Regions from separate parts of the Homo sapiens genome. Here all the other regions are linked to region 3. Evidence: fine-mapped expression QTL. A gene starts in region 3. Each other region holds a variant in brackets. All regions are shown on one strand. Distances are from middle to middle. Region 1 overlaps DNAH11 (dynein axonemal heavy chain 11). Region 2 overlaps DNAH11 (dynein axonemal heavy chain 11). Region 3 holds the start of CDCA7L (cell division cycle associated 7 like).

What was found. PIP is the estimated chance that this variant, and not a neighbour inherited with it, causes the effect.
Region 1: its variant is fine-mapped to the expression of CDCA7L in blood mononuclear cells (TOPMed, PIP above 0.99).
Region 2: its variant is fine-mapped to the expression of CDCA7L in esophagus muscle (GTEx, PIP 0.93).

What each region holds. Positions count from the first base shown.
Region 1 is chr7:21,886,976-21,889,475 of GRCh38, forward strand. The region is part of intron 76 of DNAH11 (dynein axonemal heavy chain 11); the gene reads left to right. Among named protein-coding and RNA genes, the nearest start is that of CDCA7L, 58 kb to the right of the region's middle. The variant C/A (reference allele first, on the strand shown) is at 1,486.
Region 2 is chr7:21,900,981-21,903,797 of GRCh38, forward strand. It overlaps DNAH11 (dynein axonemal heavy chain 11), which reads left to right. Exons shown (of 82, transcript NM_001277115.2): 82 at 27-859. The coding sequence ends at 274. CDCA7L (cell division cycle associated 7 like) reads right to left here. Exons shown (of 10, transcript NM_018719.5): 9 at 1,998-2,134; 10 at 1-1,372. The coding sequence ends at 1,342. Among named protein-coding and RNA genes, the nearest start is that of CDCA7L, 44 kb to the right of the region's middle. The variant ATCTT/A (reference allele first, on the strand shown) is at 1,263.
Region 3 is chr7:21,944,690-21,947,541 of GRCh38, forward strand. CDCA7L (cell division cycle associated 7 like) reads right to left here and starts at 1,210. Exons shown (of 10, transcript NM_018719.5): 1 at 1,092-1,210. The coding sequence starts at 1,115. RefSeq lists a silencer at 829-878 and enhancers at 1,019-1,168, 1,164-1,874, 1,559-1,808.

The DNA.
Region 1 (2,500 bases), 58 kb before region 3:
CCCAGTTATTTTGTTCTCATGCACGTTTCTCCTGTTTATGCTGTTTATATGATTAGCAACATGATCTAACACTTCATCTGCAGGACATCTTTTTGCCACTTCCCACAAGTGGTTAACATATTTGGAAATTAGTGTCTTTGGTTGCATTGGAACATGATCAAAAAGCAACCCATTCATGGTGTGGGGTTTAAAGTTCTGCTGCTCTTATCCAAAGAATCAGAATGCTTTCAGTGATATCTTGCTGTTAGGAGGATCAGTGAGTTTCTTGTTGAATAAATGAGTTTGCTCTCAGAGAGAGTTCTCCAGTGGGCTTTAGAGGGTCTCTGGCCAAAGTCAAGAAAGAAAACATCTTCTCACATAAAGCATGTATTTGGCAGCGTTAATTAAGAAATACAGTAAATCACTTTCAGAGAATAAGGTACCAGGTCACCTTAAAGTTATCATATAATACAAACTATTTTAGTAATATAGAATAACAAGAATCTGGGGTTTGAAGTAAAAAACAAAGACAAAAAACACCTGGGTTCACACTGAAGTACCTCTATGTATTTGCCGTATGATGTAATTGACCCTCTCTTAGCCTTGGTTTCATAATCTACAAAACCAGAATGATCAACTTACAGGTTTGCTGTCAGGTTTAAACTTTGGTACAATGCTAGAACAATATGCTTAATAAATGGGAAATCTTTTTATTATAAAGTATACATTTTCATTATATATATTTAATATTTGGCTATACATTAATCTGTGATAACAATGGGAATCCTTTAGTAAATACCTGCTCTGTGCCAAGGGTCATTACCACACACTTTATATGTATGATTTCTTCTCACTATAATCTGGAAGAGTAAGTATTATTCCATTTAATCAAAAAAGAACCTCAGGCTTAGAGAGGTCAAGCAGCTGAACCAGAATTTAAACTCGTAATCAGACTCCAAAGGCTGGTCTTTCTCTGCACCATACTGCCCTGGCTGGAGTGCTGAGCTGTTTGCAGCACAGGTCACCAAAACAATGACTCGTATTTGTATGTAGATGGTGTACAGGCCAACACTGAGAACAACACGGGCAATACGGGAGACCAGAGTTCTGGTTCTGCTACTGACTTGCTGTCTGGCTTTGTGCATGGCTTCCCTGTGCCTCACTTCATTCATTTATAAAATTAAGGTATTGCCTAGAAAATCACCAATGTACCTTTTCATTCTCAAGACACCATGATAATTCAATCTTGAGTAATGTCTAAAAATCCCTAACAGCACTTTGGGGCCATGGCATTTTTGACCCAGAAGGCCAAGGGCAAATGCATTTGTTTAAATTCACAATGAACTGGAGCTTCTTGTCATTACCAACACTACTTGGAGAGGCAGTGGAGTGGGGGTCGGTTTTTGTTAAATACCAGAAAGGAAAATATAAAAAAGACAATAATCTCATGGAGTCCAACATAGTGGGCTGGATGCTGGTTCTCCAGTTTCTAATAACTGTGCCTGC[C/A]CCTGATTTCAACAAAGATGATTTCAATTTTTTTTTTCTTTCTTTTTGAGACAGAGCCTTGTTCTGTCGCCCAGGCTGGAGTGCAGTGGTGTGATCTCGGCTCACTGCAACCTCCACCTTCCAGATTCAAGTCATTCTCCTGTCTCAGCCTCCTGAGTAGCTGGGATTACAGGCATGTGCCACCACGCTGGGCTAATTTTCGTATTTTTAGTAGAGATGGGGTTTCACCATGTTAGTCAGGCTGGTCTTGAACTCCTGACCTCATGATCTGCCCACCTCGGCCTCCCAAAGTGCTGGGATTACAGGCATGAGCCACCATGCCTGGCCGAAAATATCATCCAAATTTTTGATTATATTTTCATGATGTGGAGGTTCTTTCTGCCTGAGCATGATTCTATCGATTCTTTTTGTTTTTAAAAAAGGTTTTACTAAGATATAATTTGCACACTGTAACATTTACCAATTTAAATTATACAACTCAAAGGTCTTTAGTATATTCTGCAACCATTACAAGTTTTAGAACAGTTTATTACCCACGCCCCACCCACCCAAAAAAAAAAACCCTGCAGCCATTAGCAGTCAGGCACCATTTGTTTCCCACCCCATATTCCCCTATACCCCAGCCCATGGCAGCTACTAATCTATTTTCTGTCTCTATAGATTTGCATGTTCTGGGCATTTTTAAAAATGGACTCATACAATATGTAGCCTTCTTTCACTTGGCATAATGTTTTCAAGCTTCAGCCATGCTGTAGCATATATCAGTACTCAATTCCTTTTAAGTCTGAATAATGTTCCATTGTATGGACATAGCACATTTTGTTTATCTCATCTGTCAGTGGACATTTGGGTTGTTTCTCCTTCTTGGCTATTATGAATAATGCTGCTATGAACTTTTATGTACAAATTTTGTGTGGACATATGTTTTCAATTCTTTCGGATATGTACCTTGGAGTGGAATTGCTGGGCCAAGTGATAACTCTATGTTTATCATTTGCAAGTACCACCAAACTGT
Region 2 (2,817 bases), 44 kb before region 3:
TTGCAACCGCTGTGTTTTTGCCATAGGCGCCCGCTGGGACACCCAAGCAGGAACCATTGTTGAAGCCCGTCTCAAGGAGCTGGCATGCCCTATGCCGGTCATCTTTGCAAAAGCCACCCCCGTGGACAGACAAGAAACCAAACAGACCTACGAGTGCCCTGTGTATAGAACCAAACTGAGAGGCCCCAGCTACATCTGGACCTTCAGGCTGAAGAGCGAAGAGAAGACTGCAAAATGGGTTCTGGCTGGAGTGGCTCTGCTTCTAGAAGCGTAAGGTAACACTGGCATTCCTCTAGCCTCTGCTGGAGTGCAGTGAGGATTTTCTAGCATGTTGCTGCACTGTTCCCATGCACATTATTCTAACTTTTTAGTAACTCACACGTGCATTCTTTTTTCAACGCTATCCTTAGAGTGAAAGTCAGAAAAAAATACTAGAAACTAACTCAGGGCTGAGCGTGGTGGCACACGACTGTAATCCCAGTTACTCAGGAGGTAGGAGAATCACTTGAACCTAGGAGGCAAAGGTTGCAGTGAGCCGAGGTTGCACCACTGCACTCCCTCCTGGGCAACAGAACAAGACTCCATCTCAAAAAAAAAAAAGTACATCATAAAAGTACATCATATGTGAACATGCAAAAGCAATGCAGCCGGAAAGAACGGAGATTTTAATTTTTAACAAACAACAAATTAAATTATTAGCCCTTAAACTCTTTCAAAATATAAAAGCAGCAGGCCCCAGGTGAGTCCTGAAGGAAGAGGCTAGCACTCTGTAAGGCCTCCAGTGTCCAGTGTCTACAATGTTGATGGTCCCCTTTTGTTCAGTCAAGTTTTAATAAAAATAAAACTGTTCTACAGTTAATTGCACTTTGTTCAGTGTAAATTTCCAATGACCAAGAGCAGGTTAAACGATGTGTGTGGTCTATTAAACTGTGGTCACTCGTGCTAAGGCACACTTGGCCTGGAGTGAGTTACTGTTTGGGAAGCCAAAGATAGATAGATCAAGTGCAGGAGCTGATCATACAATGTTTTCTCTCTAACTTACTTACCTGAACTTTAACCCCACCCCATTTAAACTGTGCTTTTTAATAACTGGCAGATATTTTTAACAAAGTTCAGCATACAGACAGGTCTGTGCATACATCTATATAGATTCCTCTGCTCTGCTGTCTTCCTGAGAAATCTTTGTAAGCATATAAACAATCTTTAACAAAAAATAGTAATTTCTACAAAGAATTTCTGTATAAAAACACAACTGTAAAAAA[ATCTT/A]TCTTAGGCACCAATGGTATGCATGTCTTGTTGGAGTACTCTATGGTGAGGTGGCTGGTTCTGTTTGTTTTCCTCTTAATTGTCTTCTACCAGCTCCTTTTGTAAGCTGGGAAAAAGATGAGAAGTATTTGGTAAAGTAGTACAAATACACAAATGGCATTCTAGGCTTGAGAGATTCCACAATCATCTAAGAGTACAAAGCCAGAACCCAGATCTCCTGACACTCGAAATCCTGACAATTTATGCATCAATATCCGTATACCCTCTGGTGTAGTACGCCCCAAGCATGACTTGCCTCACTCCCGCATTCCAGAACCACGATTCAGAGTTTATTAATTACATAAATGAAACTTGTAACTCACATTCTGTCCTCTTGCCCTGAACTCTCTCTCTGCACTAGGATTATGGCTGCCTCTTCATAATCTGTGTCTTTCCCCTCAGCCTGCCTTGTTTGTTTGTTCCTTCCATTTCTGTCATACACCTCAAGGAGAAATTTTGGTTAAAGGCAACGTGGAGTTGAGTTGAAAAATCTAGCAAAGGAGAAGATTCCCTAATAGGGAAAATATCAGGCCTGAGCTTTTCCAATGCAAACAGATACAGAATGGATGGTACTCGTGGTTTATATAAGTAAGTAAGTCACACGGGAAGGCAACAACTACTTGCCCAGAGGGTCTCCTGTGCTCAGCCTCAAGATTTCAAGCTGTTTTGTAAGCTGCTAGAGACTTACTTACCTCTCCAGATATTCCTTAACATTGTCATAACCATAAAACTTGGCCAGATGAATGAGGATTCCTGTGGCACAGCGGCCGTCACGCTTCCGACAGTAGCTGCAATTGCAGATCCCACGACAGGGGGGACACACCCAATCCTAACAGAGAGATGACAGCAGACACTTCGCTCATTATCTACAGGGTCTGGCAAGAACTGGGATTCGGATCCAGAATGGCTCAGCTGGCCTCTCCTCCAACCTTTAATCACATGGCATCTTTCAGTCTACGTCCCAGGGGGCTCCTCACAAGGCAGGAAGGCTGAATCACCCCACGTCACATGCAAACACTGAAAAATGACACCTTTTAGGGCTCCTTGCTTAAAAATTATGGAGATTTTCACAAGCATTTGGCCAAGCACAGGGCCCTGTGCGAGCATGCAGGTCACAGGCCCAGGATGTCAGCCCTGGTTTAGGAGCACAAGGTTTCCAAAATATCAAGGTATGAATTTCAGCCCTTTCAATGTGTGCTTATTGTTGAATGACTAACCTGAGCAGCAGTTTGTTTGTCTGTCAGTTGAGGACCATATATTTACCCCATGACTGCTGCCTAAGAGGTCACACTCGGGAGCAGGACTGCCCCAGGCTCAAGGTCGTGCCTACTCACCATGATACTATGTCTCATTTTACCGAGGGAGCTGAGAGAGGTTATACACCTATTTCATGGGATTAAACAAATTTATGGTAACAGAGTGAGCGACAGCTTGCACAGTGCCAGGCACACAGAGAGCACTCTATACTGCAATCTCCACCTCCCTCTCAGCCTGGCCCAGGAAAAACAAAAC
Region 3 (2,852 bases):
GTCTTTGCCGCCAGACTCGGGCAGGTGACAGCGGTTTGGGCTCGGGCGCCGGGCACTCTGCGCCTTCCAACGCTGGCGGCCCCGCCTCCCCTTCTCCCGGGCCAGGCACGCAGGTGGAGGAAAGTAAACACCAGTCGGAAGCAAGGTGGAAGCAGTGAGTCTCGCGACTCTCAATAAAACAAGTGGAAAAAAAAAAAAAAACAATCCTCGCACAAAGCATCTCCGTGCTCCCACAAGCAGAGGCGTGGCTGCTTGTTTCCCTTTTTAAAGGTTGTATTTTTAGTTCTTATGAAAAATGTTTTTATTGCTTACTTCTAAGTAAACATGTATCTCCATTACGATAACGTAGAGAAAAGCTCTTTTAAGAAGTAAAAAGAGAAAACTGAAGTCACGTTCACATTCCCACTACTCACTGAAACGTTTGGGGGAACTTACTCAAGTGTTTGCTAATGAGTTTTAAAGACGAGTTAGGCCCTTAACGCGTAATTGGGGTCGTGCTGTGCATATGATTTGGGATCTTGCAGCTTGTTTAACTCGGCCCAATGACGTTACCATTTCCCCCAAATGGTTACTAATTCCTTGAAAACGTTTACAAAAGTTCTAGAATAAACACTAAAGTTATTATTTTTAAACTCCATTATCCAAGTTGGACTGGTCTGGCGATCGACTGTTAAAAAAAAAAAATTACAACTTTCTTAAGCTTCCTGATCTCTGTGCCAATTCCCGGAGAAAGTGTGGGGAGTGCACAAAAAAAGCCCCTCCCCCGTCTCACGAGGGCTGCAAACGCAGGCGCTGCGCCCCGCTAGCTCCCCGCCTGCACCCCCGGCGGCCACCCGAGACTGAGCAGAGCGCCAGGCTGAGCGCGGTTGTGTGCTGGGGCGACCGGCCTCTGTGGTCCGCGTAGCACAAACGTGACCCACTGCGCACACCTGCAGGGCGCGCCCACTCCGGCACTCAACCGGCTGGGCGCGCCAGATCCCCAGTGCCGCAGCCAAGGGCCACGTTTCCAGCCCAAGGCCAGCAGGACCGGGTGGCAAAGGGAAGTCAAACTGTGGGTGCGTCCGGACGGCGGCGGGCGGCCGGACCCTCACCTGGTAGCGAGTCGCCAACTCCATTCTTCCTAACCGGGCTCCAGTCTCCTCCCAGCACGCGGCCACGGGAGCCCGGACTCACCACGGCCCGGCGCACCAAGAACGCCCCGCGCCCGAGCAGCTAGCGCGCTCCGCCCGGAGCACAGGCGGGCCCCGGGAGGGGCGCACTTGACGCCCTGGACAGGGGGAGCGCGTTGCGCTGCCCCCTCGGTGCCGCCTCACTGGGCCTCGTGGCTCCGATCACGTTCCAACTTCGCGGCCACTGACCTTGTCTTCGCAGGCGGCGCGAGAGGGGGCTGCAGTTGGGCGCGGCAAGAGCAATTACCAGTGTTAGGGCGCCGGGCTCCCCCCTGCAGCAGAGGGAGGGAGTGGAGCCGTCCGGCGGGGTTTAGCGCGGGAGAAATGAGGGGGCTGTCCCGGCGCAGCCTCCAGCTGGCACGCGCGCTGGATACTTGGCAGGGTTTATTCCAGGTCATGCCCTGGGGCGCGAGCTTCTGCTGCAACCCCTGTCTCTGATCCAGGCAAATATTGTAGGGCGGCTTTGGGGCTTGTTTTGTTTTGTTGTTGTAACGGGGCAGGGTTCTCTTTGGGAAGATTCTGTCTCCCAAAACATTTGCTACAGGGTTCACTTTGCAGAACAGGCAACCCAGGTTTCTTTACCAAGGCCCAGGTGGACAGATGCAAACCCGCCTGAAACTTTAGACGGCCATTACACAGTAGGCCTCCACACCCACCAGACAAAGAGTTTGTAGAGGTCAGGAATGCTGACTAATTTAACAGAATTGACCCCGGCATCTACTAAGCATCAGGCACTGGGCTAGTCCTAGGAACAGAAGGGTGAACAAAAACAGGCCCCTGCTCTGTTGGAGTTTACAGCCTGAGAGCCAGTTACCAACCTAATTGCATTATTCTAAATAAATACAATAATGATGCAAATAAGTGTAATAACGATGTAAATTTTATAAATTAGATTTATAATTAATATTAATTTGATACCACTATCAATGACAAATGTAATGATGATGCAAATAAATGTAAATTTGGAGCGATGATGCCATGAGAAAAAAGGCAAGTGGTATTAATGGTGGTGTGAAATAGGAAGACAATCTGATAGAGGTCAGGGAATACTTCTTAGAGTTCAGATATGAAGAGTGAGGAATTAAGTTTGTGGAAATTGTGGGAGAGTTGAAGTAGAGAGTGGGGAGAATGGTAAATGAAGTTGTCCTGAAATCACAGCAGGTTTGCTGGACAGTGTTGCACACCTATTTAGAACCGTGGTCATAGGTTTACAGTAGAGCATCCTGTACGCATAGGACCTTCTGCAGCCCCTCTCAGCTGCTTAGGATCTGACGTTCATCTTTTCTTTATTGAACGAGTGAATGAAATTTGCCAAACATTTACTCAAGCTTGAAGAGAAAACATGGAAAAGGTTTCCTTCCTTCCTTTGGTTAGTTCAGCAAACAACATGTGTTATGTGCTTTCATGTTCCAGCCCTCAGTGTTCTCACTTCCTGGTGGTAGTAAAACCAATACAACATTGTGTGACTTAAAATGTTTTGTTTTTATTGGATAATGTTATTTATTCATTATGGCCACTTCATTTTTATTATGCTTTAGAGTTTTCCTTCACATGCAGTATCTCCTTGAATCCTCTCAATATCCTTCCAGATCCTTATTGTCCACATTTTTAAAATAAGGAAACAGAATCTAAGAAAATACATTAAGAGATCCCTGCCACCCTGCCACTAAGTGACAGCAGCAG